Homo sapiens: one gene and its partner. The protein of the gene in region 1 interacts with the protein of each later gene in a pairwise test. Each region holds a gene or a part of one and is shown in the gene's direction. Other genes may lie near its edges. The genes, in order: SLC30A6 and SLC30A5.

What was found.
Region 2: the proteins of SLC30A6 (region 1) and SLC30A5 interact in binary tests that used the Homo sapiens proteins (3 or more experiments, as listed by UniProt).

The regions. Positions count from the first base shown.
Region 1 is NC_000002.12:32,189,563-32,193,480, forward strand, and holds part of SLC30A6 (zinc transporter 6), read left to right. Parts: intron 1-2,773; coding exon 2,774-2,854; intron 2,855-3,355; coding exon 3,356-3,391; intron 3,392-3,918. UniProt on the Homo sapiens protein: Has probably no intrinsic transporter activity but together with SLC30A5 forms a functional zinc ion:proton antiporter heterodimer, mediating zinc entry into the lumen of organelles along the secretory pathway.
Region 2 is NC_000005.10:69,092,068-69,095,985, forward strand, and holds the start of SLC30A5 (proton-coupled zinc antiporter SLC30A5), read left to right. Parts: upstream 1-1,946; 5' UTR 1,947-2,188; coding exon 2,189-2,271; intron 2,272-3,918. UniProt on the Homo sapiens protein: Together with SLC30A6 forms a functional proton-coupled zinc ion antiporter mediating zinc entry into the lumen of organelles along the secretory pathway.

The DNA.
Region 1 (3,918 bases):
CTGGGATTATAAGCATGAGCCACCGCACCCGGCCTTTTTTTTTTTTTTTTTTTTTTTTTTTTTTGAGGCAGAATCTAACTCTGTAGCCCATGTTGGAGTACAGTGGCATGATCATAGCTCATTGCAGCCTTCAACACCTGGGCTCAAGTGGCTCTCCTGCCTCAGCCTCCTGAGTTGCTAGGACTACAGGCACATCCCACCATGCCTGGCTAATTTTTAAAATATTTTTGGAGTCAGGGGTCTCACCATATTGCCCAGGCTGGTTTGAACTGGTTTCAAGCGATCCTCCCACACCCCGAGTAGCTGAAATTACAGGTGTGGAGCCACCGTGCCCAGCTGTTATTGTCTTTTTTCATAAAGGCCATTCTATGGTATGCAGTGGTATTTCATTGTGGTTTTAAGTTATTTTCCTTATGACTAATTGAGCACCTTTGCCTATGTTGATTAACCATTCAGATCACCTCTTTTTTAAAATGCTTGTAAAAATCTTTTAACCATTTCCTGTTTTTCTGTATTAATCTGTAACAGTTCTTTATATATAAGTATCTTCTCCTTCTTAGTTGCCCTTCTTTCTCTTAATGGTATCTTCTGATGAATAAAAGTTTTAAATTTTAGGCCGGGCGCGGTGGCTCACGCATGTAATCCTAGCACTTTGGGAGGGTGAGGTGGGCAGATCATTTGAGGTCAGGAGTTGGAAACCAGCCTGACCAACATGGTGAAACCCCATCTCTACTAAAAATACTAAAATTAGCCACACATGGTGGTGGGTGCCTGTAATCCCAGCTACTTGGGAGGCTGAGGCAGGAGAATCACTTGAGCCCAGGAAGCAGAGGTTGCAGTGAGCCAATATCGTGTCATTGCTCTCCAGCCTGGGCGACAGAGTGAGACTCCGTCTCAAAAAAAAAAAAAAAAGTTTTAAATTAAATTTATTTTTTTGGGTTGGTCCTTTTGTGTACTTGTTAAGAAATCTTGGCATACCCCCAGGTCAGAAAGACACTTTGTTCTGTTATCACCTAGAAGCCTTACTGTTTGATTTTTCATATTTAATCCTACAATCCAGTTGGAATAGATTTTTTTGGTATGGTGTGAAGCAGGAGTAAAGGCATATTCTGGACTGCAGTGGCGCAATTCGGCTCACTTCAACCTCCATCTCCCAGGTTCAAGCAATTCTCGTGCCTCAGCCTCCCAGGCAGCTGGGATTACAGGCCCGCACCACCACGCCCAGCTAATTTTTTGTATTTTTAGTAGAGACTGGGTTTCGCCATGTTAGCCAGGCTGGTCTTGAACTGGCCTCAAGTGATGTGCCTGCCTCGGCCTCACAAAGTGCTGGGATTGCATGTGTGAGTCACCGCGCCTGGCTCTTTACTGCTTTTATGTGCCACATTTTTCACAAATCAGTGGACTATATATGTGTAGGTCTGTTTCTAGATTCTCTTTTCTGTACAATTTGGTGTATTTGTACTTGGATTAGTACTGCACTATGTCAATTATTGCAGCTTTGAAATACCTATTGATATCTGGTAGTATAAATCTTCCAGCTTCGTTCTTCTTCAAGGTTATCTTTGCCTTCCTTCACATTTTGCAGTTCCATATGCATTTTAATATCAGCTTCTCACCTTCCACAAATAACATTGGTGCATTTGCATACTGTTTTTTCCTGTTCTTTTTTATTTTTTCAGTAGCTGGAAAACAACACTTAATTTGTATTCTATCATAACCTACTTTTTTCACTCACCTTTTTCCATGTCAATAAATACTTTTTTTGTTTAACAATATATAATGTTCTATTGTTGATTCCAGCATTTTTCCTTTACAAATAACAATGTGATGTACAGTCTTAATTTTTTTGTCTTTTCTGTGCCTCCGTGATTATTTTCTTGAAAAATTTTAAGCATTTATACTTACCATAAATATTGAATACCATTAGACCATGTGTTGCAGGAAAAACTAAAACAACAGTTCCTGGCCTCTGGCTTATAGTCTAGGGATTATAAAATATATTCATAATTCACTGTAATTATGTATAGAAATGAGAGGCAGTATAATAAGTGGTTAAAATCTGAATTCTAGTGTCAGAGTGTTTGAGTTTGAAAACCTTCTACTTGCTATCTATATGACTCTAAACAGTTACTTTTCTTCTTCGTGTCCTAAACTTCTTATCTGTTTGGGAAAAAAAAATGAGCCAAGTGTGGTGGCACATGCCTGTAGTCCCATCTACTCGGGAGGCTGAGCAGCTGGGAGGATTACTTGAGCCTGGGAGTTCAGGGTCCAGCCTGGGCAACATAGTGAGACCCCCATCTCTTGAAAAAAAGAAAAAAGTGGATAAAGTAATTCTAATAAGGGGTTGGGAGGTTTAGATGAGGTAATATGTTAAGCACTCTGGTGTCTAACGCACAGTGGGTCAATTAAGTGTTATTATTATGATTGTGATTATTTCTAGAAAATAAGGACTATAATTGGGTCCTGGTAATTGTCTTTTTTTTTTTTTTAATCATTTTAAAGTTTTTCTGGAAAGAGAAAGCCTCTGACATGGGCTGAAGGTGCTCTCTCTTCTGAGTCCTAGGAATTGTACAAATAGGTACTCCTTGGAATCTGTGATTTTCATTGTTTATTATTATTCTAGAAACCCTAATCTGCTCTAACAGTGTTGGGCTCATAGTAGACAGCACATATGTATATTAAGTGAGCAAATAAATGAATGTAAATGTGTTCTAGAGAGACTGGTTTGTGAATTGAAAGAATTGTGATGATCTAATTAATGTTTTGGTTTCAGGTTTGAAAGATTAGAAGTCCTGGCTGTATTTGCCTCCACAGTCTTGGCACAGTTGGGAGCTCTCTTTATATTAAAAGAAAGGTACATTTGTATAGGATATTATTCTAAATCCCCCCATGACACCTTTGGGAACATGAAAGAAACCCGTCAGACACATTTGCTTTCAAGGGTATGAAAACTTAGATGAGCAGGGCTGGAGTTTTGATAGTACACTTTCTTTATGTTTCAGACTTTTTCTTCTGTTTCATTTTTTTTACTTCCTTCCTTAATGCTACTAAATTGAATCAGAAGTGGTTGTGAATGAAACAGAGATTCAGTCAGGCATGTTTGATGCTTATTACAAACCCATTGAAATAGGCTTGGCAGAGAAAGATAGACATTACATATTAAGGATAATTTGTGAAAAAAGAAAACAACTAAAAAGGATAATTTATGAGTCTCCTTGCCTCATCACTGCTAATAGTTAATAGTTATAATATTAAAAGATTTTGTGAACTTTAAGGTGGGTGAATGATATATTTAATAAAGCTTTTTAACTTTATAATTTATAGGACTTATTTAATATATTTTTATTTCTTATAGTGCAGAACGCTTTTTGGAACAGCCCGAGATACACACGTGAGATTTTATTTTCAATATATAATTTACTATTGATTCTTAATTATTAATTGATGTATTATTAAACAGTTGGCCAATGTCAGATTTCAGACTGTGGCAACATAACGTTTTTGCTGGTATTTCACAAACAAAATTCCCTAATACTAAGACTCCGTTTCTTTACTCTTAACAGTTCCCAAGTTCTAAATATTTTTATACTACACAGGAAGGCCTTTCTATCTTGGCTTCAGGCTTCTCATTATTTCCAGGCCTAGGAAACACTAACCCAGCTTCCCCTAGTCTTCTGTAATTTCAAATTTGACCTTCAAAATCTTTGCATAGCACCTGTAGAAAAGAGAATTGGACGAGGCTCAGGGATTCAGTGTAATCCCAGCACTTTGGGAGGCTAAGGCAGGAGGATCGCTTGAGTTCAGGAGTTCAAGACCAACCTGGACAACAGAGTGAGACCCTGTCTCCAAAAAAAAGAAACGTATATATGTTTCATATATATTGCAACTATGTGATTTTCATATATATATGAAAAGAGA
Region 2 (3,918 bases), on another chromosome or scaffold:
TTGGGCATTCTTATTACTATTATTATTTTTTTTTTTTTGAGACGGAGTTTCACTCTTGTTGCCCAGGCTGGAGTGCAATGGCGCGATCTTGGCTCACTGCAACCTCCATCTCCGGGTTCAAGCCATTCTCCTCCTCAGCCTCCCGAGTAGCTGGGAGTACAGGCATGCACCACCCCACCCGACTAATTTTGTATTTTTAGTAGAGACAGGGTTTCGCCATGTTGGTCAGGCTGGTCTCAAACTCCTGACCTCAGGTGATCCACCCGCCTCAGCCTCCCAACTGCTGGGATTACAGGCATGAGCCACTGTGCCCTCTGCCTATGGAGTAGCCATTCTTTTATTCCTTTACTTTTTTAATAAACTTGCTTTCACTTTACTGTATGGACTTGCCTCGAATTCTTTCTTGCGTGAGATCCAAGCTCTCCTGGGGTCTGGATGGGGACCCCCTTTTCAGGTAACACTACCTGACCTGTTTTTACAGATGTGCCTGGATTACACAGTTTCACAGGCAGAATTTAAAGAAAATCAACGCTTTCCTTTTCAAAAAGGAGACAAAACAGTTTGCAGCAACACTTAACAAAATCCTCTTCCTTCTCCTATGTTCTGTCCTCACACAGTTGGATTCCAGGGCCTCTAGCAACAACGGTTACCAGTACTCCAGGCCCCACACAAAAAGCCACAAAAGCAGTCACCTTCCTCCGTTACTTTATTTGATAGATGACCCCAGGCTCCCTGTGGCAAAGAAGAATCCTTTCTTTTTCTTTCTTTTTTTTTTTTTTTCCAGAGACGGTCTTGCTCTGTTGCCCAGGCTGGAGCACAGTAGCATGATCATGCCTTATTGCAACCTTGACCTCCCACGTTCAAGCGATCCTTCCGCCTCTCCCTCCTGAGTGGCTGGGACCACAGGCATATGCCACGCCTGGCTAATTGTTTTTGTATTTTTGATAGAGACAGGGTTTTGCCATGTTGCCCAGGATAAGAATGTTTCTTTAGAAATCTGGAAATTGCCTTTAGGTTCCCTTAGGAGTAGGAGAGAAGGCCATGAAGTTTCGCACGTGGTCACTCCTAGAAAATTGCCCTGGGATAGTTTGCTGAGGAGGCAAATTTTGGTCAATACTAGTTTCTCCTCTCCAAAGTCCATCAAAGGCATTGTTCAAAAGAAATGGCCGTACCACTATTTGTAATTGATTCTCTACAGCTTCAAAAATAGTTATCTCTGGTTGGGGGAAGGGCACGTGAACTTTTAAGACTTCGGGCCTTCTCATCACAAAAATGATCCATACTCACAAAAACTTAGAGGCAGAGGGTATGTTAACCTAGATTAAGAATCTCTAGGCCGAGTGCGGTGGCTCACTCCTGTAATCGCAGCACTTTGGGAGGCCGAGGTGGGTGGATCACCTGAGGTCAGGAGTTCGAGACCAGCCTGACCAACATGGAGAAACCCCGTCTCTACTAAAAATACAAAATTAGCCAGGTGTGGTGGCACATGCCTGTAATCCCAGCTACTTGGGAGACTGAGGCAGGAGAATCGCTTGAACCTGGGAGGTGGAAGTTGCCGTGAGCCGAGATCGCGCCATTGCACTCCAGCCTGGGCAACAGGAGCGAAACTCCATCTCAAAACAAAAAAAAAAAGAATCCCTAACGCAGAGGAAAAGATTGGTGAGCTTTGTTTAATCACACACGCTGTACATTTTCCACGCCCTCCCCCTCTGCCCTACAGGAATCCGCTGTACTTCTGACGGCCCATAGGTGGCACTGTAGGGACAGGTAAGTGCACAGGGAGCGCCACCCGGAGAGGCTGATAGGAGGCGGAGCTTCAATGCGACACAACGTGGCGGGAGGAGCCTAAGGGACGAGGAAAGGCGAGTGTTCTGCTTGCGCAGACGCAAGGCTGGGCACTCCCCCGGGAGTGAGGGTTGCTGGGCCTGATGACGTGGCTTGGCAACGTCCCTACCGCCGCTGCTTCCCGGGAACCTGGCGCCGCCGGAACTGATCGCGGCCTAGTCCCGACGCGTGTGTGCTAGTGAGCCGGAGCCGGCGACGGCGGCAGTGGCGGCCCGGCCTGCAGGAGCCCGACGGGGTCTCTGCCATGGGGGAGTGACGCGCCTGCACCCGCTGTTCCGCGGCAGCGGCGAGACATGAGGAGACCCCGCGACAGGGGCAGCGGCGGCGGCTCGTGAGCCCCGGGATGGAGGAGAAATACGGCGGGGACGTGCTGGCCGGCCCCGGCGGCGGCGGCGGCCTTGGGCCGGTGGACGTACCCAGCGCTCGGTAAGGGACCGATCCGGAAGGCAGCGACCGGCCGGGTCGCTCAGGATGCACTTTCTCCGGCCTCCCTCCGGTCTCCGCTGACAGCCCGGGACGTCCCGGGGTCGGCGCGCCCTCTCCCCCTGCCTGCCTCCCTGCGCGCAGGCTGCCTCCGGGCTCCCCGGGCTCTTCGGGTGCCTGCTGCAGAAGGAAGGCGCTAAAGCCAAAAAGCTTCTGCTTGAATTTCTGGGTTACAAGGCAGACAGTCAGTCTTAGAACTGCCCGCCAGTTCACGTGAGAGGTTTTTCTGATCTGTGAGAAGCCTTTCTCTTGGCTGTTTCTCCCTGAAATAGTCTGGCGACTACTTAACCTTTCTGACGTTTCCCTGCATAAATTAGGGGAAGGTGTCACCATCAGCTCTCTTCAGGCGACGAAACCAAAGTACATACGTGAACTTGGATGTTCAGGGGAACTTGGATGTTCAGATTAACTGAGCACATCGAGGGTCCAGCCCCGTTTTCTTTTTTTATTTTGTTCTTAAATAAGAAATGTGTCCTCGTTGTCAAAAAAAAATCTAAACAGCAAAGCAATTCATAGAGTAAAAAGTGAAAATTCCCACTTCCTCTCTTCAATTCTCCCACCAACCCGAAAAGTAAGGGACCAACAGGTGCAGCGACCACTTTCTAGTGTATCCTTCCTAAGTTCTGAGATAGTGTCGAAAATGCACAAAATACAGCCCTGCAATTTGGCTGGAACTGGTGTTCTTTGCCTCCATTTTTAACGAGTTCTTCCCATTCTGGAATAAATACTTCTTTGATATTTAAAGAAAGTGATAAATGTGATAAATTCTTTAGAACTGTAGTAATAGCATTATAACGTAACTTTTTTTTTTTTTTTTTTTTTTGAGACGGAGTTTCGCTCTTGTTCCCAGGCTGGAGTGCAATGGCGCGATCTCGGCTCACGACAACCTCCGCTTCCCGGGTTCAAAAGATTCTCCTGCCTCAGCCTCCCGAGGAGCTGGGATTATAGACATACTCCACCACGCCTGGCTAATGTTTTGTATTTTTAGTAGAGACGAGGTTTCTCCATGTTGGTGTGGCTGGTCTTGAGCTCCCGACCTCGTGATCGGCCTGCCTCGGTCTTCCAAAGTGCCGGGATTACAGGCATGAGCCACCGCGCCCGCCCAACATAAGCATTTGTTATGAAAAGGGAAGAACACCACATAGGACAGAACTTAAACCAACTGCATTTTTGTAGCATAAATTTAATTTTCTAATCTATTTTGAGCATCTCATTTTGTAAATAACAGCATATCAGATGTTAATTCTTGAGACATGACAACTAAATGCAATAGGCAATTCTGGTCTGATTTGGTAGTAGGGGAAAAGTGCTTTAAAGGATGTTACTGGGTCAATTGACAAAACTGGACTATGGACAGTAGATTAAATAAAAGTTTCATATCAGGCCGGTCGCAGTGGCTCACACCTGTAATCCCAACACTTTGGGAGGCCAAGGCAGGTGGATCATCTGAGGTCAGGGGTTCGAGACCAGCCTGGCCAACATGGTGAGACCCCATCTCTACTAAAAATACCAAAAAAAAAAAAAAAATTAGTTGGACGTGGTATGCGCCTGTAATCCCAGCCACTCAGGAAGTTGAGGCAGGAGAATGGC